Linked DNA regions of Homo sapiens: region 1 is linked to region 2. A link means that fine-mapping ties the variant in region 2 to the expression of a gene that starts in the linked region. Tissue or cell type: whole blood. Region 2 holds a variant in brackets; the other region holds the start of a gene. All regions are shown on one strand. Distances are between the middles of the regions.

Region 1 (14,209 bases), 35 kb before region 2:
TGCCTGTGTTTAGGCAGAAGGCGGCATTGTAGAGGGCCTCACTGCTGTCCCTGACCATCATCAGCAGAGCAAAACCCATGCAAACTATCAGGGGTACTGGAGCTCATCTGTTGCACACCAATTCTGGTGTTCATCTCCGTGACATCCCAAGCCACAGTCATTATCCCAAAACAACCCAAGTTCCCTCTGATCCTTGGAACTGAGTCCCCTTTCATGTCCTTGGGTCTCCCTTGGATGGAGGGAGTCATAACTCATGGCTAAGAGCTATAGGTGCCCCTCACCTCCTCTCCCTATCTCTGCTTCTCACAGCTACTGCCAAGTTCTTGGCTTGGAAGGGTCATGGGGGCCAAGAAGGACCTTTGTACTCTCCATTACTCGGCCCTGGAGTTCTCACCACCTCTGGAAGCTTTGAATCTGGTCAATGTCTCCTTACTTGCCAAGCCCACCAAGACTCAAGATGGCCACTCCCAGGGACTAAAGCACAGAGCTAACCCTTCAGGTCCACACACTAGGTTCTCCCCCATCTGGTAGAGGTAGACTTTTGCAGACCACACTCATAAATTCTGAATCCTGCTAACCCCAAGGCTAGGGGATGGGACACAAGCCCACGGACCCAAAGAAACAGTGCCCTTTCACTCCCCCAAATCTCTGTGCCGCTCAAGTGAATGCATCTGGTCAGAGGTGAGAAAGTCAATTTACAGACCCAGCATATGACAGCTCTTGGCAGCTTTGACACCACGTGGTAGAGGGTCCAGAGGTCCCTCAGTACAAGCCTGGAAAGAGGAGCTTCAGAGAGATCTCCACTCAGAGAATATGACTTGTGTCCTCTACAGCAACAGAAGACACAGGGCCTCGTATCTGATTCCAAGGATAAGAAACCCAAGGGTCAAGAGGTGGAGGCTGCCAGACTAGTGGCAGGCAAAACAAAAAGAAGCAAGCTCCATTTCCACCAGTCAGAGGACAAAGGCTCTAACAGGTAAGAAAACTGAAGTCTGTGGCTGGAGCCAGCAGTGACGGCAGGAAAACCCTCTGTTTGGCATGCCAAAAATCTATGAGTTTCCATGCATCAAGCAGACACTCTAGGAAGTAATTGTGCTGGAAAAGCCATCTTGATATGATTTCCCAAAAAAGGCCGACTGGCAGAGCAAAAGCACTCCTGCACTTTCAGGGGCTGGAGCTGAGATAGAGGCCAAGAGTTCAGAATAACAAAATATAAAATAGCTAGACAAGCACAACAACATATACATATGAATGACCTTGTAAGTTATAAACTAGAATACTCAGGCCAGCCTCGGTGGCTCATGCCAGTAATTCCAGCACTTTGGGAGGCGGAGACGGGAGGATCACGTGAGGTCACGAGCTCGAGACTAGCCTGGCCAACACGGTGAAACCCCCCTCTCTACTAAAAATATAAAGATTAGTCAGGTGTGGTGGCACGCATCTGTAGTCCCAGTTACTCGGGAGGATGAGGTGGGAGAATAGCTTGAAGCAGGGAGGCAGAGGTTACAGTGAGCTGAGATCATGCCACTGCACTCCAGCCTGGGCAACAGAGTGACAGAGTGAGACCTTGTCTCAAAAAAAAAAAAAAAAATTAATGGAAAAATAATGGTAACTTATTCTTACTTGGTATAAACAAAAACCTATTTTAAAGTTACAGTAGGTGGTATTGGCACAGAAATAGATCAGTAGAACAAAAGAAGAAGTTCAGAAATAGACTTCAGCATATGATTCAGTATATGATTTCAAATCACTAACAGAAAAAAACAGTCAATGAATTTTTTTTTTTTTTTTTGGAAACAGGGTCTTGCTCTGTCACCCAGCTGGAGTACAGGGCATGACCATGGCTCACTGCAGCCTCAACCTCCCCTGTTCAAGGGGTCCTCCCACTTCAGCCTCCCAAGTAGCTAGGACTACATGTGCACACCACCACGCCTGGCTAATTTTTGTATTTTTAGTAAAGACAGGGTTTCACCATGTTGGCCAGGCTGGTCTTGAACACATGGCCTCAAGTGATCCACCCACCTTGGCCTCCCAAAGGTTACAGGCGTGAGCCACTGAGCCTGGCCTCTGTTAATTCTTATTTTTTGTAAAGATTGTGTGTCGCCATGTTGCCCAGGCTAGTCTCGAACTCCTGACCTCAAGTGATCCTCCCACCTCAGCCTCCCACAGTGCTGGGATTACAGGGGTGAACCACCGCTCCTGGTCTCAATGACTATTAATAGGACAACTAGCCAACCATTTAGCAACGATTTTTATTTAAAAAGATACCTTCCCCTGCCTCACTCCCTATCCTAAAATAAATTATAGATGGATTAAAAATTTTTAATGTTTAAAAAAATGCTAGATTATATTTAGTACCTTGAGATTAGAAGGTCCAACATAAGGAAAAAGACTGATAAATTTGACTATACAAATTTAAAATTTTTGTGTGGCAAAATATAATACAAACAAGATTGAAAAATTATGAACTCGAAAAATTGTTTACAAAACATATGACAGGAATTAAAATGACTACAACATAAAGAGCTTTTTCAAATCAAAGACAAATAGGCCAAGTACTGAGAAAAAGACAACTCACAAAGACAGAATTAACAACTGGCCAATCAACAAGCAAAATAATCAGAGAGACACAGACAAAACATTGAAACATCCTTCTTCACATACCAGATTAATCAAGATTAACAATACAACAGCACTCAGTGGCGCTGAGGCTTTCTGCTGGTAAGAGTGTAAATTTTTGTATAAGTTTTTGCATAAAACTCTTCCAGCAATCTGCACTGTAAAATGTACATAGTTTCCATTCCAACAATTTTACTTCCAGGAATGTGGCCTAAGTGATAATTGCATACCTTCATACTGACTTTTATAAGGACAATAAACATCTGAAAATATTCTAAATGCACAACAGAGTATTGGTTAAATGAATTATGGTACAAACTTATAATGCAGTCATGAGTGACATGAAAAATGTGGCCTGGAAATGATGACTGAAAGAATCATGTTACAAAACCACACACAAAATTTGACTCCATTTAGGTAATCCTGAGTTGAGTTTGACTCTATTTTGGTAACCCTGAGTTGAGCCCAAAAAGTATGGATCTAGATGTGCATGCCCCACCCCCCACCCACCACACACACACACATACTCCACCACCACCACCCAAAGGATTCACTCTCTCTGAAACAAGAGCACACACTGCCTTTTAAATTGACTTGCTTCATGGACTCACCCTCCCACAAACTGGGGCACAGAAAAGGCCACATCCTTCCTCCCCAGAAGCAGGCACTGCTTTGTTGGTTCAGTCTAACCAACAAAGGATGTGGTAGGTAAAAGGTTCTTACAACGCTATTTGATTGACTTCTATGAGACCATTGAGTTCCTCTTAGAAGAAAAGAATGGGAAAACAAAAGGTTTAGAAAATCAGAAAATGTGAGATTAGCAATGAAAAGGGAACACTGAATGTTCTTTTTTATTTCCTTTAAAATCAATTTAAATATTAATTTTATTCCAAGCTAAAGTGGAATTTCAAGATAATCACTTCTGCTCTGGTCTTACCTTACGTGCCCCACTGCAATTTCAGGTCTCGAGTCAGAGAACAGACTATTTCCTCTTCCCCTTAATTAACCTCCATCCATTTGCTTGATTGTTTGTGGCTCCTTCTATAAGGGATGGGTGGAGGTGCCTTACAGTGAAAAGACAGGTATACATACACACACACTGTATATATATAGATTGGAAATTCAAAGGCATGACATTCCTGGGAACCAAAAAGCCTGTCCAAAGATTAGCTCCATAGCTAGCTCAAGGGCTTTCAAATGCCAGAAAAGAGAACTAGGGCAGCCAGAAGACTTGGCCCCACAATTCAAGTATTAACACTGAGCAATTCTGTGTTATAATTTGCAGCAGTTAGAGGAAATCCCAAAGTCCACGTTTTTGTTATTTCAGTAAATTTTTTTGGATCTCACTCTGTCACCCAGGCGGGAGTGCAGTGGTGTCACCACGGCTCACTGCAACCTCAGACTCCTGGGCTCAAGCGATCCTCCTGCCTCAGCCTCCTGAGTAGCTGGGACTACAAGTGCACGCCACCATGCCCGGCTAATTTTTAAAACTTTTTTTGCAGACATGGGGTCTCGCTATGTTGCCAGGGCTGGTCTTGAAGACCTCCCAAAGTTTAGTAATCTTATATGAACTGCTTTTACTTTTCTGCATTGTACCCAGAAGGTGATGTTTTACTTAATATTTAGTCAGTTATTTTAACCAGAAACTTTTAATACTAAGCAAGGGGGATTTCTTCCTTTCTATCACAATTATACTACATTCCATGTGGACAACTGTATCTCTGGCAGTTAATTCTAGAGGTGGAAATTAGGGAAGGGGGTAGTATGGAAGCATACAGCATTTACAAAACTGGCAAAAAATAAAATAAGTCAAGGGGAGGCTCAGATTCTTTCTTTGGACAAAGGTGGGCTTTGAGGAAAGATCCTCACTCATCAGAGGCCGAGCCCTACACTAACCACAGTAATTTGTATTGATACCCAATTTAGTTCAGGAGCTATAAAAATGTATGTTTGCGGCCAGGCGTGGTGGTTCATGCCTGTAATACCAGCACTTTGGGAGGCCAAGGCGGGTGGATCACGAGGTCATGAGATCGAGACCATCCTGGCTAACACGGTGAAACCCCATCTCTACTAAAAATACAAAAAATTAGCTGGGCACGGTGGCGGATACCTGTAGTCCCAGCTACTCCAGAGGCTGAGGCAGGAGAATGGCGTGAACCCGGGAGGCGGAGCTTGCAGTGAGTCGAGATAGCGCCACTACACTCCCGCCTGGGAGAAAGAGTGAGACTCCGTCTCAAAAAAAAAAAAAAGTATGTTTGCATTATTGCACATAAAAATTAAAAATTGAGAGCTATTTGTATTCATCTATTGAGAGAAACGGTCTCTGGGGGTTAGGATGGGGACCTGTCCCCATTATAGACCCGTTCTGGTCTATAATTTACCTAAGACGAGAGCAGAAAGGGTTTTAAATGCTGATCCTAAGTTGTCGTCGGAGGGCAGTACCCCAGAGGACAGGGGAATCATTCCTAACACTGGCAGGGGCCAGAGGCTGACAGCTGGCATTGAACACCTGAATGTCAGGATATTACTCGCCTCTCTCTAATTCTTCCCAATAGAGCGGATACACTCTGGACTCCCTGGGGTGGAGCAGCTACATGGGCAGTTTGTACTTGTTCCTCTTGTCTCTTCATCTGCCCATAAGCCCAAGGCACTCAGAGTCTTCCCTCACTGACACCCAGCAAGCCGGTGAACACACCGGCCCACTGCATTGGGAAGCCCTTTCCTTTTGCTAAGGACTGCATTCGTCTATGCTGCATCTTGAGGCTGTGCAGTATCACCTCCCCTCCTCCATGGTTTTTCTTCTCTAGGCCTAGCAGGCAAGGGAGAAGGAGAGATGCCAGAAGCCTCTGTCTTTCCTTCCCCATTCGTTTCTTACTGAGTCTTGGAGTTAAATTGTTAGTTAGTGCCGGGCGTGTGGCTCACACCTGTAATCTCAGCACTTTGGGAGGCAAAGGTGGGCGAATCAACTGAGATCAGGAGTTTGAAACCACCCTGGCCAACATGGTGAAACTCCATCTCTACTAAACATACAAAAATTACCTGGGCGTGGTGGGGGGGCCCTGTGGTCCCAGCTACATGGGAGGCTGAGGCAGGAGAATCACTTGAACCCGGGAGGCAGAGGTTGCAGTGAGCTGAGATCACGCCACTTCCCTCCAGCCTGGGCAACAGAGTGGGAGTCCATCTCAAAAAAAAAAAAAAAAAAAAGAGGAAAGAATGCCAATTCATGATTTAAAAGTAAAATCAAATAGACTCCAGCTGTCAACTTAGCATATTCACAGTAGGTCCAGCACCGCTTATATCTAATGTTTCATAGTTCATAATGGAGTAACATTCATAGTTACTGAAGTTTAGATAAAAGAAGTGTCACCCTCTATGGCAACCCCTCCCCTGAAACACACATGGACTCTAGTCTAGCCATGGGCTCAATACTGTTTTAAGCATTGCTACTACACTACCACCAAATCTCAGTTTCTAACAGGGGGCAAAGAGCATTTTTAGAAGACGCTTAGTAACAGAAAAATTAACCAAGGGAAGAACAATCTTAATTACGGGATATTTTTACTGGAATGTAGACATTACTTTTGAATATATAGGACAATAGAAATTGCATCAAAGCAATGCTGCCTAACAGACACAGCAGGAAACTTATTGGCATGGCCAGGCTAGTATATTTTCTCATTAGTATATCAACTAATTATAGGAAAAGTACTGTTTCTAAAGTGCTTGAAACATTTGCCTACGTCACTGTTCTCTTTTTCAATGACCTCCTTCATAAAGTCAAACTCTAGCCCAAACTTAAGCCCATCTCACTGCATATTGTAAAGAATGGATTCTGAATGAATTAACAGAAATGCTTTTATATAGGAGGTTGCAGAGATTCTCTTGCAGTCAATGTCTAGAGGAGCTGACCCTCAGGCATCACTCAGAGGAAGTCCCAGCCAAGATTCACAGATCTGTATGTAGCCTTCGGTCAATATCACAGTGTACATCAGGAGTCTCAAGTTCATTGCACAGAACTGGTCCTGTAGCAGGGAAGACTCAGAATTCCTGAGTTTTCTCCTTATGGTGACTCCTCAGGGATAGCCACCATCTTAAATCCAGGAATGGGGCCCAGCTGGGAATGGAGAAAGTTGCAGGCCCACATGCTCCCTGGACGGAAGTCACACGGAGCCTCTGTGCGGGCACCTGAGAAGCTGCCAGAACACCTGCCCAGCAGCAGTGCATCCTCCCCACTCAGTGTCCATCTGCCATCTAGACATGGAGGAGGAAAAGAAAAGAGACAAATATGAACACACTTTGGTTTTCCCACTGTGCATCTCTATGCACAGCTCACACGCACACCCATGGGAGGAGGCGAGGGGGAGCAGCATGGAAGCTCAGCCACCCCTCTGTGTGTGGCCAGGGCAGCCATCACTGGTCCTGCTCTTTTCCTGGGAAGGCATCCCCCATGCTACCTGGAGGTACAGGGTTAGTCATGCCTTTCACCGCTGAGTGTGCTCTGCTGAGCCAAGGACAACCTCCACCCACACTCCCTTTGACTCCCCTCATCCCCAGCTGTTCTTCGTGACTCTGACCCATCCTCCCCTCCATTCCAGTCATTTCTCAAAAATGACACCCTCACATACCACACCGCTGAGAAGGAGAGGAATGTGAGAATGATCACAACAGCCAGGGAACCCAGTCCAACACCCGCCATCTGCAGCAGCATGAGTGACGAATCTGTGGGACAAAACCACAGGCTTAGCCCAGAGTGCACGGCATCACCACCTCCCAGGAGGCACACACCCCACTGTGCTCAATCCATTTTAACCCAGAGCTTGGCCCCATTTAACAAAGAATCCCAAGAATGCCCAACATGCCTGTGTGTCCCCTGAGTTGGCCCTGTGGATATGCAGCCTCAGGAAATTACAGTTACAAGGTATTTCTGAAAAGGAAGTGTAAAGCCAGACCATGTTAAAGTTACAAGGGAGAAAACAGCTAATCTTGTTGAGCACACAAATACTATGCAACGTGTTACATTTTTTGTTGGTCCTCTCACAATCAATTACATTTGATAGATTTTTATGGGCCGTTTTCTTTTGCATGGAGGGACAAGTCATTATGATATTATTTGAATTTGGTTTCCAAAACTGATAGCCCTGATGGTCAGATAGAGCAAAGGAATATCCTTTGTTGAGTCACCTGTCATTTTCTCCATACCTCAACAAGGGTCATACTTCCCTGCTCAGGTCAGCAGGTTTACTGAGAGGATAAAAGTACTTTGAAAGACATACTTTCTATTTGGGGACCATCACATGCCAACTCCAGGGAGATCCCCGATTATAAACTAAAAAACACTCACAGTTGAGTTGCACATGTGGGCCAAGTGACTGACTTAGAGAATCATGTTCTAGATTAGAGCAAAAATTTCATTTTAATTTGCAAACACTTACTTAGCACTTACTATGTGCCAGACACTGTTCCAAGCACCTCACAAATATTCACTCATTTAGGCTTCTAACCAGCCTTCACATTGGGTACTATTATTATTCCCTTAAGGAACCAAGGTGGGAGTGGCTAAGTACAACTCAGGTCTTTACAGCCAGGTTAAGAGGAGTGCATTTCTATTGGAAACTCAGTACAGTACCTGGCACTAGTAAAACCAGCCATAGAATACACCTTGTGTTAAACAGCCCTGCAGAACTTGAAACCGCCTTTTTAAAAATTATAACCGAGAAAATTATAACCGTGAAAAAGATCTGACCTGACTGACTCCATCTTGCTTCTAACCTCCAAGTTGCCCCTGTTCATTCCTGGGCGTAGGCTGAACTAACTTTGGGAGGAACTCAGTTTATAGTTTAACTTTGAAACAAAGACGATAATAGCCCTTTCCCCAAACAAATCCCCATCCTGTCTGGGGACTAGACTGCCTTTGCAAGACTAACAAATTAGCCATGAGATTAGAAATTATGGTTTAGGGGTCCTACAGCTGGAAGCTGCAAGATTCTGAACTGCTCAAATTGCTCCTAGGGCTAACATCACTATTGTAAAACCTAAGATCAGTGCTTGAGATATTTTCCAGACCCTGCACTCCATGGATCGGCTGGCATCACCCAGATCCATAAACTGGTTCATCTGATCTTGTGGCCCCCAACCAGAAATTGACTCAGTGCAAGAGGACAGCTTCGACTCTGTGATTTCATCTCCAACCCAACCAATCAGCACTTCTGACTCACTGACCCCCCCATCCCCTACCCCCTACCCACTAAGTAATCCTTAAAAACCCCATCCCTGAATTTTCAGGGAGACTGATTTGAGTAATAATAAAACTCCAGTCTCCCATACAGTTGGCTCTGTGTGAATTAAGCTCTTTATTGCAATTCCTCTGTCTTGATAAATCAGCTCTGTCTAGGCAGCAGGCAAGGAAAACTCATTGGGCGGTTACTAATTCTCAAAAAATGCTGCCAAGAGCCTTTCTAGAAAACATGGCTTATATTATTTGGTTGCTTTTAGTCTATAGAAGAAAAATGGCCTTGACACTTTAAGAAGCTAGATTACTTATTTTGTTTTATTTTATTTTTATTTATTATTATTTTTTGAGACAGAGTCTTGCTCTGTCACCCAGGCTGGAGTGCAGTGGCATGATCTCGGCTCACTGCAACCTCCACCTCCCGGATTCAAGCGATTCTCCTGCCCCAGTCTCCCTAGTAGCTGGGACTACAGGTGTACTCCACCACGCCCGGCTAGTTTTTGTATTTTAGTAGAGACAGGGCTTCACCATGTTGGCCAGGCTGGTCTCGAACTCTTGACCTCAGGCGATCTGCCCATCTTGGCCTCCCAAAGTGCTAGAATTATAGGCATGAGCCACCATGCCCAGCCAAGAAACTAGATTATAAAATGGAAGGAGAAACAGTGATTAAGTGAAGAATTAGTAAAGAAAAAATATTAGGAGAGTGACTTGAATTGCAAGACAGTAAAACAGTGCAGTATTAGAATAGGAATGAATACATTGGAACAAAATAGCCTAGAAACAAATCCAAGCATATCAAATACTTTCAAAGTTTGAATACTGGAGTCAGATGTCCAAGTCTTTATCTGAACACCACCACTGCCTGTGTGACTTTGTGCAAGTTATTCATCCATTCTGTGTCTCAGTCCCCACACTGAGGGATGCTGTAATAACATGGGAATGATAGCAATACTACCCACCTCTAGGTAGTGGGAGAAGTCAGTGAGTTAGTACAGGTTGAAACAGTGCCTGGCACAGAATAAGCAATAAGCAAATGTTAGCTATTGTTAATTATTATTGTTTTTGTTGTTTTGATACTGTTTCAGATCATTGGGGAAATGATAAATTTTTCATAACCAGTGCTGAGAAAATTGGCTAACCATTTAGAATCAAATAATTTTGATCACTAGAGCTTACACCATATATCAAAATAAAATCCAGATGGATTACAGACTTAAATTGAAACCTAAAAGGATTAGGAAATGTTAGTGAATATTTACCTAATATTAAAGGGGGTAAGAAATTTCTAAGCATATTCGTTAACACAGAAACCTTAAGAGAATGAGAGATTTAACCACTTTAAAAAGCATGCACTTCTTATACCAAAAACTACCATAAGCAAGATTAAAAGGCAAATGGCAAGCTGGATAAAATATCTAGAATAATGGGCAAGAAGTTAACATACAGAGAGTGTTACAGATTAATAAAGACATACCTCAATAGCGAAATGAGAAAATTCTACGAAAAGGTAAATCACATGAAAAACATGATTACAGATGATCAATAAAACTTTGAGCAAATGCTCTCTTACAAGTAATAAAAATGCAAATTAAGGCATTAAGATGCCATCTTTGTGCATGACTCAGAAACATTTTTTTAAATGCCATCTTGGTGGACTAATTAACTAGATTTGTTTTGTTTTGTTTTGTTTTTAAGAGAAAATACAATTCTGGAGATGAACGGGGGAGCTGGTACTTTACTGCACTGGCATTTCATCCGATCTACCCAGTATTCCTTCCAACTTCTGACATCAAGTTTTTTTCTGTGTATTTTTTCCTCTACACTTTAACCCTCTGTATATTTTAATCACTGATTGATGAATATGTTGAACTGAAGATGACTGTGGACAGAAATCCATATCATGCATATTCTTGGGTTTGATTTCAACTCATCAATAATTGTTAATGAGTTGATATCAACTGTGCATAGCCATTCAGCTTGTTTCTAAGCCCACATACAGCTCTCATGTCCCCACATTGTCCACAAGGACATTATTGTTATTATGCGTGCCATATTTCCCTGACCAATTACTGACTCTGTGCAAGAAGAAATGGAAAGCAATCTGACCTAATCTGCTCTTAAAGCTCCTGACTCCCGGGAACTGCTGTTTTTTCTACCAGGGATACACAAGCCATCACTTGAAGACCTTGCTTTGCCTTGACTTCAAGTTACCATCATCTACACTTCTGGTGGTTCTTCCTTTGTACAAAGTTCCTTGTTCTTTGCTCATCTCTAGTCCTCTTACATCTCTCCATTTTCTTCAAGGTTTATTGAAGATCATTTGCAATGGTTTATCCATCTCATGTGAAAATTGTATGAACCTGCCAGAATACGCTACATCCATGTTGGAAGACTTGAACCTATGTAGGGTAGCAAGCTCTTTTCTTTCTTCTAACTATCCCCTCACAAACGAAGAGGACAAAAGCTAAGTAGGAGTTAAGGAAGCTGACTTTCACTTGACCATCCACCAGCAGGATCTACCTGGGCACAACTATTCCTTACTCTAGACATAGTATTGGAAAATGATCTTTATTTATTCTGCATAGCACAATTTGGGTTTGGCTCCAGGAATGATTCTTGCTGGTAGATCAGTTCCTGGTTATATGTCTTTTTGTCTACTTTGCATATATACTCTAAAAATCTGAGTCAATCTAATCAAGAGTGCTCACAAGTGTTGCCACACAAGCTTCTTTAGAGACTTTCCTCATTAATTCCTTAATAAGAAAATTTACAACTGGCAAATTTGAATTGTATTTTTTATAGCCTCACCATCCTTTGGTTACCCTACCTTTCCATGGTCTCATGCCAGAGAACCATGTTTATTTTTCTTCTGAATCACTTGTAGAATATTTTTTTACAAACCCAAGTGAATCACTCATGTGTTATATCCCACATCAGTTACTCAATCTTGGAGAAAGTAAGTCCATTAAGACTAAACTTCACCATTCTCTTTATGGTGGCTCCCTCAAGAGAGCTAGTGCTCAGGAGGAGTGATGGGGCCTTGCTGGACTTATCTTTAACCCCTTCCCTGATAGAAATATCACATGCTGAAGAGGAAGTTAGAAAGGCCCTATTTCTACTCTCAGACTTTGTGACAGCTTGAGGACGCTCCATGGGTGTGGACATTTTTTCATGAATATACACGGGCATGGTCACTTCCTGAAAGCACCAATTCTGTTCTCCAAATGGTAAATAATAATAAAAATAATAATTAGCACAGTGACTTCTATTTACTGTGTTAAATTTCTCTTTGCTATTCTAGGGTCTTCTCACTTGAATTCCATTCAGAGCCAAAGATGGCAAAGGAAATCAAAGTGGAAAACTAATTTAAAGATAAGTTTAAAGATTAATTTAAAGATTAATGCTTGATACATTAGCAACACTGTTATATTCCATTTTTATTGCAGTTTAACAAATCACCACAAACTTAGGTAGCTTTAACCCATTTATGAGCTCAGAATTCTGTGGGTGGTAAGTTCAGGCACATTGTGGCTGGTTCTCTGCTCAGGGCCTGTATTAGTCCCTTCTCACACTGCTATAAAGAACTACCTGAGACTGGGTAATTTAAAAGAAAAGAGGTTTAATTGACTCACAGTTCCACAGGGTGTACAGGAGGCAAGGCTAGGGAGGCCCCAAGAAATGTACCATCAAGGCAGAAGGTGAAGGGGAAGCAGGCACAGTCTTCACATGGCCAGAGCAGGAGAGAGAGAGAGTAAAGGAGGAAGTGCTACACACGTTCAAACAACCAAATCTCATGAGAACTCTATCACGAGAACAGCAAGGGGGTAATTCATTCCCATGATTCAGTCATCTCCCACCAGGCCCCTCCTTCAATACATGGGGATTACAATTCGACATGAGATTTGGGTGGGTACATAGAAGAAAACCGTATTAGGGCCTTACGAGGCTAGAATCAAGGTCTCAGGTGGACTGAACTTCTTTCTGGAGGCTCTGGAGAAGAAGCTGCTTCCAAGCTCATTCAGGTTATTGGCTACATTCAGTTCCTTGCTGCTATGGTTTGAGTTTATATCCTCTGAAACTCACTTGAAATTTAATCCTCAATGTGGTGGTGTCAGGAGTTGGGACCTAGTGGGAACTATTTGGGTCATGGGGTTGGAGCCCTCATGAACAGATTAATGCCCTCTCTCAGAGGTGAGTGAGTTCTTGCTCTGGAGGGGCTGTATTACCAGGGAGCTAGTTGTTATAAAAATGAGTCAACTTCCTAGACTCTTTCTTGCTTCCTGTGTCATCACATGATCTCTTTGTATATACCTGCTGGCTTTTCCACTTCTCTACCATTGTTCTGGTGAGCATGTAGCCCTCACCAGAAGCAGGCCAGATGCAGTACTATGCTCTTGAACTTCCCAGCCTACAGACTCATGAGCTAAATAAACCTCTTTTCTTAATAAGTTACCCAGCCTCCAGTATTCTGTTATAGCAACACAAAACAGACTAAGACACTTGCAGTTATAGGACTAGGGTCCCCATTTTCTTACTGGCTGCAGCCAGGCCTTGCTCAGCTCCTTCTGTTAAGCTGCACTCCTTGCCATGTGGACCCCTCCATCTTCAAGCTGCAGGAGAATTTCCCTATGTCAAATCCATCTCATTCTTTGAAGCTCCAACTTCCCCTATCTCTGACCTCTAGATCCAGATTTAAAGGGCTCCTGTGATTAGGTCAAGCCTATCTGGATAATCTCCCTATTCGGGAGCTTAAGTACATCTCCAAAATCCCTTCACAGCAATACCTAGAACAGTCTTTGAATGAATAACTGAGAGAAGGTAGATGTATACCAAAGACAAGGAATTTGGGAACCATATTAGAATTCTTCCCATCACAACTATAAAGGTTTAAAATGATTGTGTGCATGTATATATGTACATATATACACATATATGTACATATACAGTAAATACATATGTATACATACACACTAGGTTTATATCCTGATGTAAGTCTTCTCTGGCTTATTTGATAAGTATTGCACCTCCTATGCTTCATTTCCCATAAAACTAACTGCTGCTTCCTCAGTAATCATTCAGCCCAATTCAGTGCATTCTGATTGAACACCTAATGCATGCCAGGCTCTGTTCCTCCTCTTCAAATGCCCTTCAAGGGTGTAAAATCTAGTAGTAGAAGACAGACAAAACAAGTGCACACCCATTGCTCTAAAATATAGCAGAATAGCCAAAGAAGGGCAGATCCTGCCCTGTTGAGAAAATTTAAAAAGCTTCAGGGAAGAAAGGGCATTTGATTTTAATCTTGAAAAACAGGTGGGATAAGCAGAGATTCACAGGTGGGTGATCAGGAAATCCAGATGGAAG
Region 2 (16,615 bases):
GAGACGGCAGGAATCTGGCAACCAAGTCAGCAGTGATGTCATTTACCAAGTCTGGGGGAAGACGAGAAGCAGCTCACTTCTAGGTCTGTTCAGGTTGAAGTGTATAAGGAATCCTCCAGCAGGCAGTTAGAAACATAGGTCTGGAGCCTAGGAGCAAACCCCATGGTGGAGATACAGAGGCAGCTCACAGGGAGGAGTGAACGTGGCCACCAGGGAGCCAGTATCAAAGTATGTGAGGAGAGATGGGGGCCAAGGGCGGACCACCGAGAAACCCAGGCTCTAAGACCAGGTGGAAGAGTAAGAGAACTCTGTGGCCTTTATGAAACAGTGTTAGGTCTAGAATTTCTCCCAGAGTCTCTTAGACACTGCAATATAGATCATGTTTTTCCTAAACCTGCGGCATTGCCAGGTGTCCCAGGAGGTCACCTGGAAAAGCCTCTGCTTAGAGTCTAGGCCTCACATCACTCATTTGTTGAAATGAAGGTCTATGCTATTTTCAAGAGCAGTCCAGAGAGAGATTCTGTAGGATACAGCTGAGAAGACAACAGCTGGATTCCTGTGGCAGTGATGGAGGAGAGAGGAAAAGCCCACACATGTCCCCTGGGAACGTACCCCTTCCCCTTTGAGATCGAACTGCCCTCAGGCCCTTTGCTATCACCGAAATGCCCTTTCACTTGTGACGTTTTGTTGTCACAGTAAAATTAACTTTTTTTATTACGTGTCTCCTCTTCTCAGCCAAGGTGGAGATTAACTGGTCACTCTTTTCTGTGTGAGAACTCCGCCCCACCCCACCCCGCCCCGCCCCCACCAGCTCTTTACTCCAAGAGTAATAATTCTAGTTCCTCTAATCTCTTGGCTAACATTTTAAAACCACACAGGAGAAGCAGAACAAAGTACTCACTGAGCTCAGAAGAGGCAACTGCAGACCGAGCAGGAAGGCCATCCCCCTGCTTGGTCCAGGTGATGTCACTCTTTCCCAATCTAGAGTCACAGTTTTCAAGGCACCACAGTCATCTGGTTCAATCAACATGTGACTTTGAGACCATTTTCTGCTCTGTTTGCCTAAGGTCTCCCTGCCCTATATTTTATTTTATTTGTTTTTGTTTTTGTTTTTGCTTTTGCTTTTTGAGATGGAGTTTCGCTCTTGTCGCCCAGGCTGGAGTGCAATGGTGTGATCTCAGCTCACTGCAGCCTCCGCCTCCCGGGCTCAAGCAATTCTCCTGCCACAGCCTCCCGAGTAGCTGGGATTACAGGCATGCACCACCACACACGGCTGATTTTTGTATTTTTAGTAGAGACGGGGTTTCTCCATGTTGGCCAGGCTGGTCCCGAACTCCTGACCCCAGGTGATTCCACCTGCCTCGGCCTCCCAAAGTGCTGGCATTACAGGCATGAGCCACCACGCCCAGCCGCTGCCTTATATTTTAAACAGTCTACTTTTTCTCTCCAATGTACAAGCCTAAGCCTCGTCAGGCTGGTTCTCAGCCACATTTCGAGGTGGAACAAACTTGACTTTCAGCTGAATTTTCCAAGGTGCTCTTCCTTGTCTCCCAAACTGATGTCCTGGGTAGACCTGCTCTCCTTTCCATCAACCTCGTTACTGATTTAAACTGATTTAGACCCAAGGCAAGAAATGGGTCCTGCCTGTGCTGGAAAATATAGCTCTTTCACCTTGGGTGTGTGAGATGGGAGAGGAACCAGAACAGAGACCTTCATTACCATCCTCGGATGTCAGGAATATCCCTCCTCTGCTAGAAGCAAATGGCAAAAGAAATCCTCACATGGAGGGAAATGTGGGGAAAAGTAATGAAGGAGAATTTGCTCTGCAAAAAAAAATATTAAATGTATCATAAAATTACAGCAATTGAAATAGTAAAGTACACGCACAGGACAGACAAACAGTGAAAAAAAGCTAGACAGTCTGGAAAGAGACCCAAAGAAATGCACCAGGTGGCATGGATGGTCAGTAGTTCCAAAGGTGATAGGGAACTGGCTTACAGCTGGGGAGAAAAATTACAATGTAAATTTAGCCTCATATCAGACATCAAAATAAATTCCAAATGAACCTAAGTGGTTTTGTTTTGGTTTTGTTTGTTTGTTTGTTGTAGAAAAGTGGTCTCACTGTGTCGCCCAGGCTGGGGTGCACTGGCATGATCATAGTTCACTGCAGCTTTGAACTCCTGGACTCAAGCAGTCCTCTCTCCTCAGCCTCCTAGAGCGCTGGAATTATAGGAATGTGCCACTGTGCCCAGCCTGAAACTAAATTTTAAGTGCAAAAAAGTAGGTCAGGTGCAGTGGCTCCCACCTATAATCCTGGCTTTTTGGGAGGCCTAGGCAAAAATGATTGCTTGGGCTCAGGAGTTTGAGACCAGCCTGGGCAACATAGTAAGACCTCATCTTTACAAAAAGAAAAAATTAGCAGGGTGTGGTGACATGCACCTGTAGTCTCAGCTACTTGGGAGGCTGAGGCAGGAGGACTGCTTGAGCCCAGGAGTTTGAGGCTGCAGTAAGCTATGATTGTGCCACAGCACTCCAGCCAGGGCAACATAATGAAACTCAGTCTCAAAAAAAATTGAAAAGAAAACAAAAGAGTAAATAGCCTTGGAGTAGGAATTTGTAATATTTATCAAAATATTAATATCACTAATGAAGGTAAACTATTAAATCAACCAAAGAAAAAGGGTAGTATAAGTACAAATGTGTTAAAATGTCTCTATGTAAAACCCATCAAAATGAACAAAAAGAACCAAAAATGGAAGAAAATTTTATCTGCATCAAAACTAAGCAACGTCTCCAACTTTGTACTGCAAACTTCAAGTAAACACAAACAATTGAATTAAAACACAACTCCACCGCCCAAAAACCCAGTACAATGCTACTTTTCTGGATTTTCTATAATAAAAAGTAGGTAGAAAAATAAACACAGCATGATGGTTCTTTTCTAATCCTCAGGCACCTCTCCAGATATATCATCCCATCCAAGGCATGGTAAATTAAAATTGAAGGCAACAGAAAAAATAGTGTCTTCCACTACAAGTCATCAGCTAGATATATCTTCTCCATCAATAAAGTTATGAGACTTCACCTCCCAAGGAGAAGAAACCAATTTCTTTTCACATGTACATCCTCAGTAGGCAGCACAGGTCTTTGTACATAACCAATCGAAAAATATTTGCTAGTGACTTCTCAAGACATCTCCTTTTATTATTTATTTATTTTTATTCTTTTTTATTTCTTTCTTTCTCTTTTTTTTTTTTTTTTGTTTTTTTTTTTGAGACGGAGTCTCACTCTGTTGTCTAGGCTGGACTGCAGTGGCACAATCTCAGCTCACTGCAACTCTGCCTCCCGGGTTCAGGAGATTCTCCTGCCTCAGCCTCCCAGGTAGGTGGGATTACAAGCACCCACACCACACCCAGCTAATTTTTGTATTTTTAGTAGAGACTGGGTTTCACCATGTTGGCCAGGCTGGTCTCGAACTCACCCACCTCAGCTTCCAAAAGTGCTGGGATGGGATTACAGGCATGAGCCACCGTGCCTGGCCAACCCATCTCATTTTTAACAAATACAAGTAAATAAATAAATATTTGCTAAATTAAATTGTTACAGCTCAGCAAGCCCCTCCCCCTCTCCCAACACACACAGAAACCCTAGTTTCCAGGCTTCTGATCTAAGAATACCTTCTCATGCACGTTTTATAAAAGCTAACTTTGGCTGAGATTCAGATGCTGGTAGCAAGAGGGTCTGGGAGACACCCATCCCCACACAGCCATTTACTTGGGGGCTTGGGGTTTGTTTTGAAGCTAGAAAGCAGTTGGGAGATTTCTGGGAATGAGAGAAATACGTGGACTGTGGAAGCATGGAAGGGCAAACATGCCTCTCCTAGCGTGACCTAATGTTAGGGCTCCAGATATCAAAAGAGCCTGTGTCCACGGAAGACTTGGAAAGGAAAACAGCTGGCATGAAGGCCAGTCCCTCTGCTGACCTGTGGTACAGCTTCAGCCCCCTTGGAGCCAGGGGGGCCCCCAGGGATAAGTGTGGTACCTTGGAACCAGCCAGGGGAGATGGGTTTCTCACTGAGGACACAGGGGTACAGCATCCTTGGATGGTTTGTGGGTAACCAACCATGAAAGAGAAGCCTCGGTAAAAGAAACCAAGAGACCTAGTCCTGCACAGTCTTCCCTGAGGACATCCCATTGTGGAGGGCGGTGTCAGAGGCAGGGGCAGGGAGGATCAGGGCAGTCCTGGCTGGACCTCTCTGATAAAGTGACAATCTGATAAATGCCTGGGACACTCCTGTGTTTTCTGTTGTTTTCCTAACCGTCTGAAAAAGTACTTTCCTTTTTCTTGTTATGAATACAATGAGAGATGGGAAATTTCTTGAAGAAGTTGCCAGCCTTGGTACTGAAGACATGGGAATAAATAATTTCCTTTTCATCTTTTCTTCCCTTTGCTCCTCCAGCATGCTTGGTTCCATAATAAACATTCCATCTCAAATGATCACCATGTTGTGTAAGACAAGTGGTCTGGTTTATCTCCACATTTACGTATGTATTGGCTTTCTCACGCTCACTCTCTCTCTCTCTCTTTCTCTCTCTTCCCCACCCCGCCCCCACCCACCCCCATCCTCCTCTCTCTGGTTTCCTCTTTCTCTCTCTATATAAGAAAATGTTGCCTACAAAGCTTTTAGACTTAGCAAGAAAATAGCATACTCAGCTGGACAGTGGCTCATGCCTGTAATCCCAGCACTTTGAGAGGCTAAGGGCAGGCAGATCACTTGAGGTCAGGAGTTTGAGACCAGCCTGGACAACATGGCAAAACCTCATCTCTACTAAAAATATATTTTTAAAATTAGACGGGGCTGGTGATGTGTGCCTGTAATTCCCGCTACTTGGGAGGTCGGGGCATGAGAATCGCTTGAACCTGGGAGGCAGAGGTTGCAGTGAGTCGAGATCACACCACTGCGTAAGCAACAGAGCAAGCCTGGGCAACAGAGCAAGACTGTCTCAAAAAAAGAAAGGGAAAGGGAAAGGAAGGGAAGGAGGCCAGTGCAGTGGCTCACACCTGTGATCCCAGCACTTTGGGAGGCCGAAGTGGGCGGATCACTTAAGGCCAGGAGTTCAAGATCAGCCTGGCCAACATGGTGAAACCCCATCTCTACTAAACATATAAAATTAGCCAAGCGTGGTGGCACACACCTGTAATCCCAGCTACTTGGGAGGCTGAGACATAAGAATCACTTGAACTCAGGAGGTGGAGGTTGCAGTGAGCTCAGATCACGCCACTGCACTCCAGCCTGGGTGACAGAGCGAAATTCTGTCTCAAAACAAAAAAAAAGAAAAAGAAAATAGCACACTCAACATGTGGATGCTCTTCTGACTCTTTGGGGCCTGCATCAAGGATGAAAGTTTGTTCCTCACCCTGTCCTAAAGGGGATGCGTGCCGTGGGGCTATCCTGAAGAATTCAGTTCAATGTGCCGTCTGCAGCCTATCAGCCAAGAGTCAGAAACACCGTGAGGCCACAGCTCCATCTCACCCACCCCCTCGCCAGCCCCTGCTTTCCTGCATTCACCGAAACACTTGCCTCTGTCCCTCAACATTCCTAGAACCTTCACTGTCCTCTGAGGTCAGCGATGTATTTAAAGCACTTGTTTTCATCCTGTTCCCATCAGTAAGATTTAACGTAAGACACTCAGAAGGGAAATTCCACTCTCTTTCCTTCTGGGAAATGAGCAGCTACATTGTCCAGACCCAAATCCTTAGCCTAACACATCTGCCAAAATTCAAAAGTTCATGATTTTACCGAAATAAGGCCACACACTTCTTAGGAAACCACGAGTATCTCTGCACATCAACACATAAGCTTCTCTTTTTTCCTCCTTTTATAAAAGAAAGGGGTTGGTTTTTTTTTTTTTTTAACTCTTTCATAAGATCAAAGCAACTTGATTTTTTTATGCTTCTTTAAAATTACGAGTCCTTTAAAGTGGGTAGAGTTGGAAAATAGGCATCTCAATGAACATTAAACAGCTCAACAATGTCCCCTGGTGGCCATGAGCACAGAGAGAGGGAACTTGAGCCACTAAAGCTCTATTCAGCCTACCAAACAAGGAGTAAGTGTCTCATCAAGATGAAACCCCCTCCCCTTTACTCAAAAAAATATGCAACGGTCCTTCAAACCAGAAAAGCACAGCATCCAAATATGAGAAAGACCACAGAGTAGGAAATGGAGATGGAGTCGCTATTCATTTTAATAAGTCACCACAGAAAGAAATGCCCAGACTGAACACCACTTGTCTCTCCAGCCCAAAATGTGGGGAATTCTTTCTGGTAGCCAGAATTCATTGCCTAACCAGACATCTCCTCAACACCAATACCACCCACTGGCTGTTATTTTAAAATTTTGGGCTGTTATGCTATCTATCAGTACCATTCTTACCCACTGAGGGTTGAATGTAAAACATACAGACAAAAATCACTGTCTTCAGGAAGCTCCTATTTTAGTGGGAGAGAAAGAAAATAAAAAAAAAATAAGTTTTTAGAAAACAAGCTCTAGGCTGGGCACAGAGACTCATGCCTATAATCTCAGCACTTTGGGAGGTGAGATGGGAGGATCACTTGAGGCCAGAAGTTCAAGACCAGCCTAGGCAACATAGGGAGACCCTCATCTCTACAAAAAATAAAAACAAAAAAATCCCTTTTGTAATTAGCCAGGCATGGTGGTGAGCGCCTATAGTCCCAGCTACTCAGCAGGCTGAGGCAGAAGGATTGCTACAGCCCAGGGGCTCAAGGCTGCAGTGAGTTATGATTGCACCACTGCACTCCAGCCTGGGTGACAGAGTGAGACCCTATCTCTAAAAACTAATAATTAATATTTTTTATTAATATGAAGCTCTATGAAGAAATTGAAGCAGGGTAAGTAGATACAGAGTACTAGCGTGGAGGCTGGTGATGGCAGTTGAGCAGGCACCTGAACAACTATGGAGAAGCCATATGTTGACAGTGTCCCAGGAAGTGTGAACTGCAGATGGAAAAGTCTGGAGGCTGGAAAAACTTTGACCCATTGAAGGAACTGCAAGAAGGCCAGGGAGACAGCTGATGCTTAATGGGAAAGGAGGAGAGCAGGGGGAGATGAATTAGAAGTAGGCAGGGGCCAGATGACATGTCCTATGATGAGGAACTTGGATTCCATTCTAACTTTAATGGAAACTCACTGGAGAGTTTTGAGCTGGTGCTGACATGTTCCCAAATGCATTTTTAAAAGATCACTCTGAGTGCTGAGTGATCTTTTGAAAGTTATGGTGAAGACTAAGACTAAGGTCCAGGGTGGGAGGTATATAGGCAAGAGAAAACCAGTTTGAAAACTACAGCAGGAATCCAAGCAAGAGGTGGCTGTCTTGGATTAGGGTAGTTGTGGAAAAGGCACAGGTGGGGAGAAGTGGTGGAATTCAGAATATATTTCAGACAGCAAGCCAACAGGGCTTGTTGACAGATTAGAAATTTGGGGATGGGATAGAACCAATTAGGACTTGTTTTTGGTCTGAACAATTGGGTGAACAGAAATTCCAATAACAGACAGAAAGTAACAGATAGAAACAGAGAAGCCTGGGTGGAAACCGATTTGGGGGCGAGGGCAGAGGTGAGAAATCACAAGTTCCGTTTGATTTGCGTATTAGATGTTCAATAGGACATGTGTAGAAGTTGGGTGGATATAGGAGTCTGGTGCTCAAAGGAGAGGCTGGGACTAGAAATTGATCTTTGGAAATCCTCTGCATATAGGTAATAGTTATAGCCATAAGACTGGTTGAGATCACCTAAGCAGAAAGGGTAGATAATGAAGAAAAGGAGGCT[G/T]AAGAGGGGTCATAAAAGTAGATGGAGCTAGCAAAGAAGACTGAGAGGGGACAGCAAGGCAGAAGGAACCAAAACTAAGGGAGAGGGGGTTTCAAGAGGGAGGGAGTGTCAACGCTATCGAAGAAATCAGATAAGAACAAAACTGGCCATTGGATTTGGCAAGACGGAGATCAAACGAAGAGCCTTTCAGTAAAGCAATGAAGACGTATGTTTCCCACGTGGGATGAGTGAAAGTGAGAACAGGAGGTAGGGCTGTGGAGCCTACAGAACAGCCATTTCTTTCAAGGAGTTTTTATAGAAAGGGGCAGAGAGAAGGCAAAGTAGCTGAAGACAAATATGGGCTCAAAGAAGGTCTGCTCATTTTTTCTTTCTTTTCGTTCACAAGGAGGATGTTGCAACATGCTAGGCAATGCTGGGGATAATTCTGTATTGAGGGGAAGTGCTGATCAGGGAAGAAGGGATGGGATCTAAGGCACAAGTTGAGGGGATGGCAGCCTTACACACGAGCAGGGACAGGAAGGGAGGCAGAACAGGATGCAAGGAGGAACGGCAGGGCTGAGCGTGGGAAGTCCTCACCTGACTACTTCTAATTTCTCAGTGAAATAAGAATCAAGAAGCTAATATGCTTAGTATTTGCTCAGAGCATGTGTGAAGTGGGGGTCACAGATGTGAAGAGGGAGGAGAAAATGAGTGGAAAGTGAATTTACTGGGGCCCTATAGCCGGAGGACTACAATCATTGTCCCCTGATAGTAATCTACTTTTTTTTTTTTTTTTTTTTTTTTTTTTTTGAGATGGAGTTTTGCTCTTGTTGCCTAGGCTGGAGTGCGATCTCAGATCAACACAACCTCCACCTCCTGGGTTCAAGCAATTCTCCTGCCTCAGCCTCCCGAGTAGCTGGGATTACAGGCACCTGACACCACACCCAGCTAATTTTTGTATTCTTAGTAGAGGTGGGGTTTCACCACGTCAGCCAGGCTGATCTCGAAATGATCCTCACATGATCAACCCTCCTCAGCTTCCCAAAGTGCTGGGATTACAGGTTTGAGCCACTGTGCCTAGCTAGTAATCTACTCTTAAAGTACTTGCAACAGGATGCCAACTAAATATTCCTGAGAAAGAAAGAGCCACAAGCATTTTTTGTTTAAGTATAAAGTATTTTAAATGCTTTAAATATCCAGAAGCTATACAACCAACACCATGGATGGACACACTACCCACATTTCATCAATGCTGACATTTTGTTTCAGGTATCTTCCCCCTCCCCCTCCCCACAGACCTCCCCTGTGGTTATTAGGTATCTTTTTAAAAATAAAACATAACAGGCTGGGCGCAGTGGCTTACACCTGTAATCCCAGCACTTTGGGAGGCCGAGGCAGGTGGATTGCTTGAGCCCAGGAGTTCGAGACCAGCCTAGGCAACATAGTGAAACCCCGTCTCTACAAAAAATACAGAAATTAGCCAGGCATGGTGGCCTATACAACTATAATCCCAGCTACTCAAGAGGCTGAGGCAGGAGGATCATTTAAGCCCAGGTCAAGGCTGCAGTGAGCCATGATCGTGCCTCTGCACTCCAGCCTGGGCGACAGAGCAAGACCCTGCCTCAAAAAAAGAAAAAAGAATGAAACATAACAGTCACAGAGGCGCCTTAAGGCACCTCTCCAATTCCATGTCCTTCCTCCTCTCCCTGTTAAAGTTCATTATATAATGATAAAAAGCAACAGTGTTCCTCTTTATCAGGACCTATGAACAATTCTGTGGTAACTTTGTTAATCCAAATGCTGTTATTCAAGATTTACCTGTTATCTGGGTTGTCAGGGAGATGACCACAGGAAGTTCCGAAGACAGAGCCCGGAGACTGACATTGTAGTTGGTACCCGGACGTAGGTCCAAGCACACCTCGGGATCTCGGCTGCTGCTACTGATATTAAAGGTCATTTCCTGGGCAAATTCCTTCTGATACCATCTCTGGCCCCAAATGTGGAACTGAAACATAAAAAAGCTCACTGGGTGAATGGTTGGCCTAAAAGGCTTTAGATGCCTTGAAACCTCCCCTTTTCCTTTTTCTTTCTCTTTTTTTTTTTTTTTTTTTGAGATGGGGGCCTCACTCTGTCACCCATGCTGGAGTGCAGTGGCATGACCTCGGCTCACTGCAGCCTCAACCTCCCAGGCTCAAGTGATCCTCCCTCCTCAGCCTCCCAAGTAACTGGGACCACAGATGCATGCCACCACATCCAGCTAATTTTTGTATTTTTTGTAGAGACAGGGTTTCGCCATGTTGCCCAGGCTGGTCTCAAACTCCTGAGCTCTAGTGATCTGCCACCTCGAATCCCAAAGTGCTGAGATCACAGGCGTGAGCCACCGCGCCCAGCCCCTTCCCGTTTTCATGAGCTTTCTTCCTCTCTCTCTCTCTCTGGACTCTAATGTTTCTTCAAAAGGTGAAATGCAGCAGTAAGCAAATATTAGAGTTGCAATACTATAAATATTGTACTTAAAATATTATTTGTATAATAAATATATTTTTAAATAAAAACACACAAAAGGCTAAGGTCCCAATACTGGCAGCTTTCTCCTTATTCTCACACATACAGTGCACATACACAACAAGAAAGTCTATTGGCAAAACTGCAGGAGCAAGGACAAGAACATTTTCCTAGAAAGAATATTAGGAATCCAAACTAAGCAGGACCTGAATTAGAATACTCGTAGCTGGTCTGCTAGAACCTGAGAACAGTTTTTCTCCTCTTCCTGCCAGCTTCTGGTGACCCTACCCTTTCCTTAACCACCCTGACACTTCGGCCAAGAGACACCCTTTTGTTCTTACTTAATTTCTTCCAGTAGAAGTTCATCCCAGTCTTCCCCCTCCTTTTTTTTTTTTTTTCGAGACAAAGTTTTGCTCTGTCACCCAGGCTGGGGTTCAGTGGCGCGATCTTGGTTAACAGAAACCTCCACCTCTTGGGTTCAAGCTATTCTCCTGCCTCAGCCTCCTGAATAGCTGGGATTACAGCTATGCGCCACTACGCTCGGCTAATTTTTATATTTTTAGCAGAGACAGAGTTTCACCATGTTGACCAGGCTGGTCTTAACTCCTGGCCTCAAGTGATCCGCCCGCCTCAGCCTCTCAAAGTACTGGGATTACAAATGTGAGCCACTGTGCCCAGCCACTGTCTTTAAATACACAGAAGTGGCCATCTTCTTGCTTCTTGATGCAATTGTCACAGTAAATCGTCTACTGATAATGATAGTTATAGATGTAGATTTTTAGGTTTGTGGGTATTTTTAAGCCTCCCACATAAGACAACCATCTATAAATACAGTAACTTTCAGTCACTTACTAAATACATCTCCTCCATATCAGCTGTCTTGATGCTTCTCCATCTCAAGCAGGTTTCATTAAATCCTGAAATGTTACTGATGGTCTGTTTTACTGTAGTGGAAAAGAAATGAGAAATCAATTTACACTCTATAGAAAAAATGCTACCTTTTAATTGAGCCATTTTTCCAAGGATAAGTGTTAGCATGAGTTCAACAGTATTTTAATTTAGAAATTAGTGGTAGCAGTCTCAAAGTAATACCACTTTTATATCTAGGTAAACTCAGTCTTGATGAAAGATTTCAGATCCAAAGATACCTAATCGGAGGACCCCTCTTAAGAATTATTTGAGTGGGCCGGGCACAGTGGCTCACGCCTGTAACCCCAGCACTTTGGGAGGCCAAGGCAGGCAGATCACTTGAGGCCACGAGTTCGAGACCAGCCTGGCCAACATAGCGAAACCCCATCTCTACTAAAAATACAAAAACTAGCTGGGCGTGGTGGTGTGTGCCTGTAGTCCCAGCTACTTGGGAGGCTGAAGCAGGAGAATCGCTTGAACCTGGGAGGCGGGGGTTGCAGTCAGCAGAGATTGTGCCACTGCACTCCAGCCTGGGTGACAGAGTGAGACTCTGTCTCAAGAAAAAAAAAAAAAAGAAAAGAAAAAGGAAAAAAATTATTTGAGTCTATTTACTGCAAGCTTCCTTGGCTTACTAAGCTAAAATTACAACTATTTGTCCTGGACCTTGTATACCCTCATTTATACAAATAAGTGTCGGTTCGAAATTCTGAGCTAAGAGCAACATTTCAGCAGAGAATTGCTCCTTGAGGAACTGAAAAAAGTGCTTTGAAGCAATCAGGTTTTTCATGAGGAAAAGAATAGGAGGTGGCGGGATTCTCTTGGTTTGGGCTTCCTTATCTCTTGTGAGCAAAGAAATATTTCTTGTCCTCTGCTCAGTTTCATAGTAATCAATCTAAAAGACAGTTCAGATCTGATACAGTTTAATGTGGAGGTACACCCATCCAAGTAGTCAAGAAAGACTATTTATTCAAAACCCTGACATCAGAGGTTACTTCCTTCAATAAGGATCTCTGTCCCTAAAGTGGAAATAATAGAGCAGACTTGCTAAGAAGTTTCACAGGAACACTGTGATGATTAACGAGTGATAAAGACAACTCCCAAATTACGTGAAAAAAGGAAGGTCTCATGAAAGGTAAGGCTGTATTTTGTAACTCCCTGGCCTGACAGGTTCCTACAAATGAAGCCAAGTTGGTAGACACGACTCCTCTCTATGGATTGGGCAGCTTGGCACAAAGAAAACCTGTACAAGTCACAAGCTGTACCTCAAATGTTGCAACACGGAGCAGGTAGGGAACAGGAGGAAAAGATGAACAGGTGGTAAGGAACAGGAGGAGTACAGATGATTCCAGGTTAATGCAGACCCACAGCTGGGTAGAGACAGGTTTGGAGATTAGTAGTAGTGGTCCAAAGTTACACTTCTGAAACTTTCAAAATACAAATAACTCCAATAGTATTTAAACAGTTCTAGACTATACAAAAAGGTGGAAGGGTCCCCAAATCATTTAATATGACTAAATAATCCACAATGCCCGACCTGTACAAGGATGGCACAGCCAATCACTAAACATCCTATGCCAAATTTGCTTGTTGATATAAATACAAAAATCCAAAATAAAATATTAGCACAAAGAAGTCAGTAGTACATTCAAAGAACAATACACTACGACCAAAGATTTATTCCCAGAATACAGAGAGTATCATTATTGGAAAAGCTATTAATAGGTTAAAAGAGAGAAACCATGTGGTTACTTTTATAAATGGAACTGTTAATACATTTAATATACTTTGTTAACTTGAAATCTTAGTGAGCTAGGACTTCATTTGACAGAAACGCCTTAGTTTAATAGGGTTTATAAGAAACCACCACACTCAGTGGTAAAGCAATTAAGCAATTTCTAGTAAAGTTAAGAACAATACAAGGATGTCTGGTCTTGTAGCTATTACTGAGCCTTATTCAAGAGATTCTAGACAATGCAGAAAAAGGCAAGAAAAAAAAATGAGCTATAAATGCCAGAAAGAGCAACAAATGATGCAACTGCCAGTAAATCTAAGAGACTCAACTAATCAAACATGAAACTGTTTGAAAATAACAGAAAGGCAACATACAAAAACTGATCATTTTCTATCTATCTTCAAGAACAAGTATGGTAGGTTAAATAATGACCCCCACCCGCCACCAGCATGTCTACATCCTAGTCCCTGGAACCTGTATGTTACCTTACATGGCAGAAACACTTTGTAGAGGTGACTAAGACAGTGAGATTATCCTGAATTGTCCAGATGAGCTCAATGTGATTACAAACATCCTTATAAGAGAGCAACAAGAACATAAGAGTTAGAAGATTTAAGAACGGAAGCAGAGGTTAAACTGATGAGCTTTAAATATGGCGGATGGAGCCACAAGCCAAGGAGTATAGGCAGGATCTAGAAACTGGAAAGGGCGTGGAAATAGATTCTCCCCTAGATACCCCCCGCCCCTGAAGAAACACAGGCCTACTGACACCTTGATTACAGCTTAGTGAAACTGATTTCACACTTCCGACCTCCAGAACTATAAGACACTAAATTCATGTTGCTTTTAGTTTTTGTTTTGTTTTGTTTTTTTGAGACAGGGTCCTGTTCTGTCACCCAGGTTGGAGTACAGTGACCTGATCATGGCTCACTGCAGCCTTGACCTCCTGAGCTCAAGTGATCCCCCTGCCTCAGTCTCTCAAGTAGCTGGGACCACGGGCACACACCACCACGTCCGGCTTATTTTTTATTTATTTTAATTTTTTTGTAGAGACAGGGTTTCTATGTTGCCCAGGCTGGGCTTGAACTCCTGGGCTCCCACCTCAGCCTCCAAGCAATCCTCCTACCTCAGCATCCCAAAGTGCTGGATTATAAATGTAAGCCACTGTACCCAGCCCTCATGTTATTTTCTGCCACTAAGTTTGCAGTAACTTGTCATAGCAGCAACAGAAAACTAATACAACAAGTAGCAGAATATAATAGAAAAATAAAAAGATCCATATTCATGAGATGGGATATCACAAGCAAACTTCAAATACCTAGAAATAAACCTAACTAGAAATGTCCAAAACTTACACGAAGATTTTAAAGAATTTTTTTTTTTGAGATGTAGTCTCTCTCTGTTTCCCAGGCTGGAGTGCAGTGGCACAATCTCAGCTCAGTGCAACCTCTGCCTCCTGAGTTCAAGCAATTCTCCTGCCTCAGCCTCCCAAGTAGCTGGGACTACAGGCATGCACCACCACACCTGGCTAATTGTTGTATTTGTAGTAGAAACAGGGTTTCACCATGTTGGGCAGGCTGGTCTCGAACTCCTGACCTCAAGTGATCCGCCCACCTTGGCCTCCCAAAGTGCTGGAATTACAGGTGTGAGCCACCGCCCCCAGCCACCACAATTATTTTCTTATCTCACGGAACTAATTTATACTGATTGAAAAAGCTTTTACAGACCAACATAGATATTAAATTTTAATTGTATATTATAAGACAAAAATATAAGCAAAATTAATTGAGACATTCCTAAAATTTCTTCACGGTCAGAATATAACAAACACTTCTCAATCACTTCTCAATTAAGAGTTGTTGGTGTCTATATTTTTCCACATAATAACATCCTATGTGCTATCTATCCAGAGTTTGGTGAGGCAGTATTTCTTCAAAATGTGCTCTTTTTGTTTCCAGAACTTTCTCGCCATCCACTGACACCCATTCTGATGCTGAAAGTTGATCTTATACTTTGCCGTTCTGTTCCCATTGCGCTTTACATATTATAACACTATGTCTCAATGTCAAATCATAATGTAGCTTTTTGGAAAAAGTTTTAGTAGGCAATTGATCTCAAGAAATAAATGGCACCACTAGTGTCCGTAACTAAATAGAAGTGACAGCACTATGAGCAACTATGACCAATATGATGCATAGATGGACAATGACAATTATGTTCTTGGCAGCCACCTGACTGACTGTATAACAATTGTAGGATTTCATAGATACCAAAATGTGAAAAAAATATGCCTCTGAGAATCAATAAAACATAATATATACAAGCATATTAACAGTAGCATTGTCTGTAATGACAAAAACTTGAAAGGGAAAAAAAATACCCAAATAACCTTCTATAGATAATAAGTTAATAAATTAGTATACCTTTATGTGATAGAATACTGTGCTTCCCTCAAAGAGAATGAGATGACAATACATGAATTGGTATGGAAGTATGTCTACAGGATATTGTAAGGCCAAAAGTCAAAGAATAATATAAAAAAGCAAAATGAAGAATAATATATATATAATTATTTCATTTTTTAAAATTACACACACACATATGCTCAAGTAACCTAACAGTAGTGGTGAGTCTGCAGCTCCTTCTGCTCACAGGAAATGTCTCACTGGCTCAGTTCATTCAGTTCCACCCGGGTCAGGGAGTGACATTCTCACTCTAGGTTCGCTTCCCTCCATTCAAGTGGCTTTACAGTTTCAGCCACAGGCAGGTTGAACCCATGATGCATTCAATGAGGAGAAAAGGATCCCCAGTAGAGCTCATCCCAAGTCCCTTCCTAGTGCTCTCAGATCCTTTGCTATGAAAGATACGTGCGGTGGTCTCTCATACAAATCTTCCTTCTCTAATGCATTTTTAGTGGTTACTCTGTGTTCTCTCTCTTTTCTCCACCCGCTGGGCCAATGTGATCTAGAATCCTGAAGTTGAAAAACCAGAACTGCAAGAATGCCTCAAAAAAGAGAAAATTAAGCTCTTAATGAAACTTTGTTTCTGCTTCATTTGTATGGGCAAGCGACTCTTGGCAAAATCAATCACTATTTCCTCTCTGCTCCTGTGGTACCCTGCAAATACCTCAAATATGCTTCATATATTGTATTATTGATCTTTGTCTATCACCCCCGTTGAACTGATAGCTCCTTGAAGAGAGAGACATCTTCTTAATCTTTGCACTCTCAGTGTCTAGGGCAGTGATTTAAACAATCACAGCAGCTATGATTGTTCAAATGCAATCAGCAATAAGGGGAAAGCTAAGCAAATGGTATTGCATTGACCCAGTGGAATATAAGTACTCTGAGTAAGACATGCTTTCTGCCCATAACATGCATTTCACCTAGGAGAGAAGTTATGGCCTATGTAAGTACAGTTTTAAAAACAAGGGAGTATATAATAAATGTCAGAAAGTAAATGTAAGTAATAGTTAACATTTGATAGACATTCATCTTGTGTCAGGTATTGTGCTGTTTCTCCATGTGCTTTAATCCATTTGGTCTTCACAACAAGCCCACGATATGGATATTGTTATTCCCATGTTCACAGTTAAGGCAACTGGGACACATAGAGGTGAAATAACTTGTCCGAAGTTACAGAGATAGT

The links.
Region 1: LINC02977 starts here. The variant in region 2 is fine-mapped to the expression of LINC02977 in whole blood (TOPMed, PIP above 0.99).

Annotation. Positions count from the first base shown.
Region 1 is chr9:112,034,623-112,048,831 of GRCh38, forward strand. It overlaps LINC02977 (long intergenic non-protein coding RNA 2977), which reads right to left and starts at 5,802. Exons shown (of 3, transcript NR_186812.1): 1 at 3,557-5,802. It overlaps SUSD1 (sushi domain containing 1), which reads right to left. Exons shown (of 17, transcript NM_022486.5): 16 at 7,245-7,338; 17 at 6,161-6,870. The coding sequence ends at 6,870. RefSeq lists enhancers at 6,410-7,049, 6,445-7,644, 7,050-7,688, 7,800-7,849, 7,940-8,009 and 1 more.
Region 2 is chr9:112,068,896-112,085,510 of GRCh38, forward strand. It overlaps SUSD1 (sushi domain containing 1), which reads right to left. Exons shown (of 17, transcript NM_022486.5): 11 at 11,179-11,270; 12 at 9,643-9,829. Among named protein-coding and RNA genes, the nearest start is that of LINC02977, 37 kb to the left of the region's middle. RefSeq lists enhancers at 4,821-4,990, 8,196-8,295, 15,560-15,639. The variant G/T (reference allele first, on the strand shown) is at 7,846.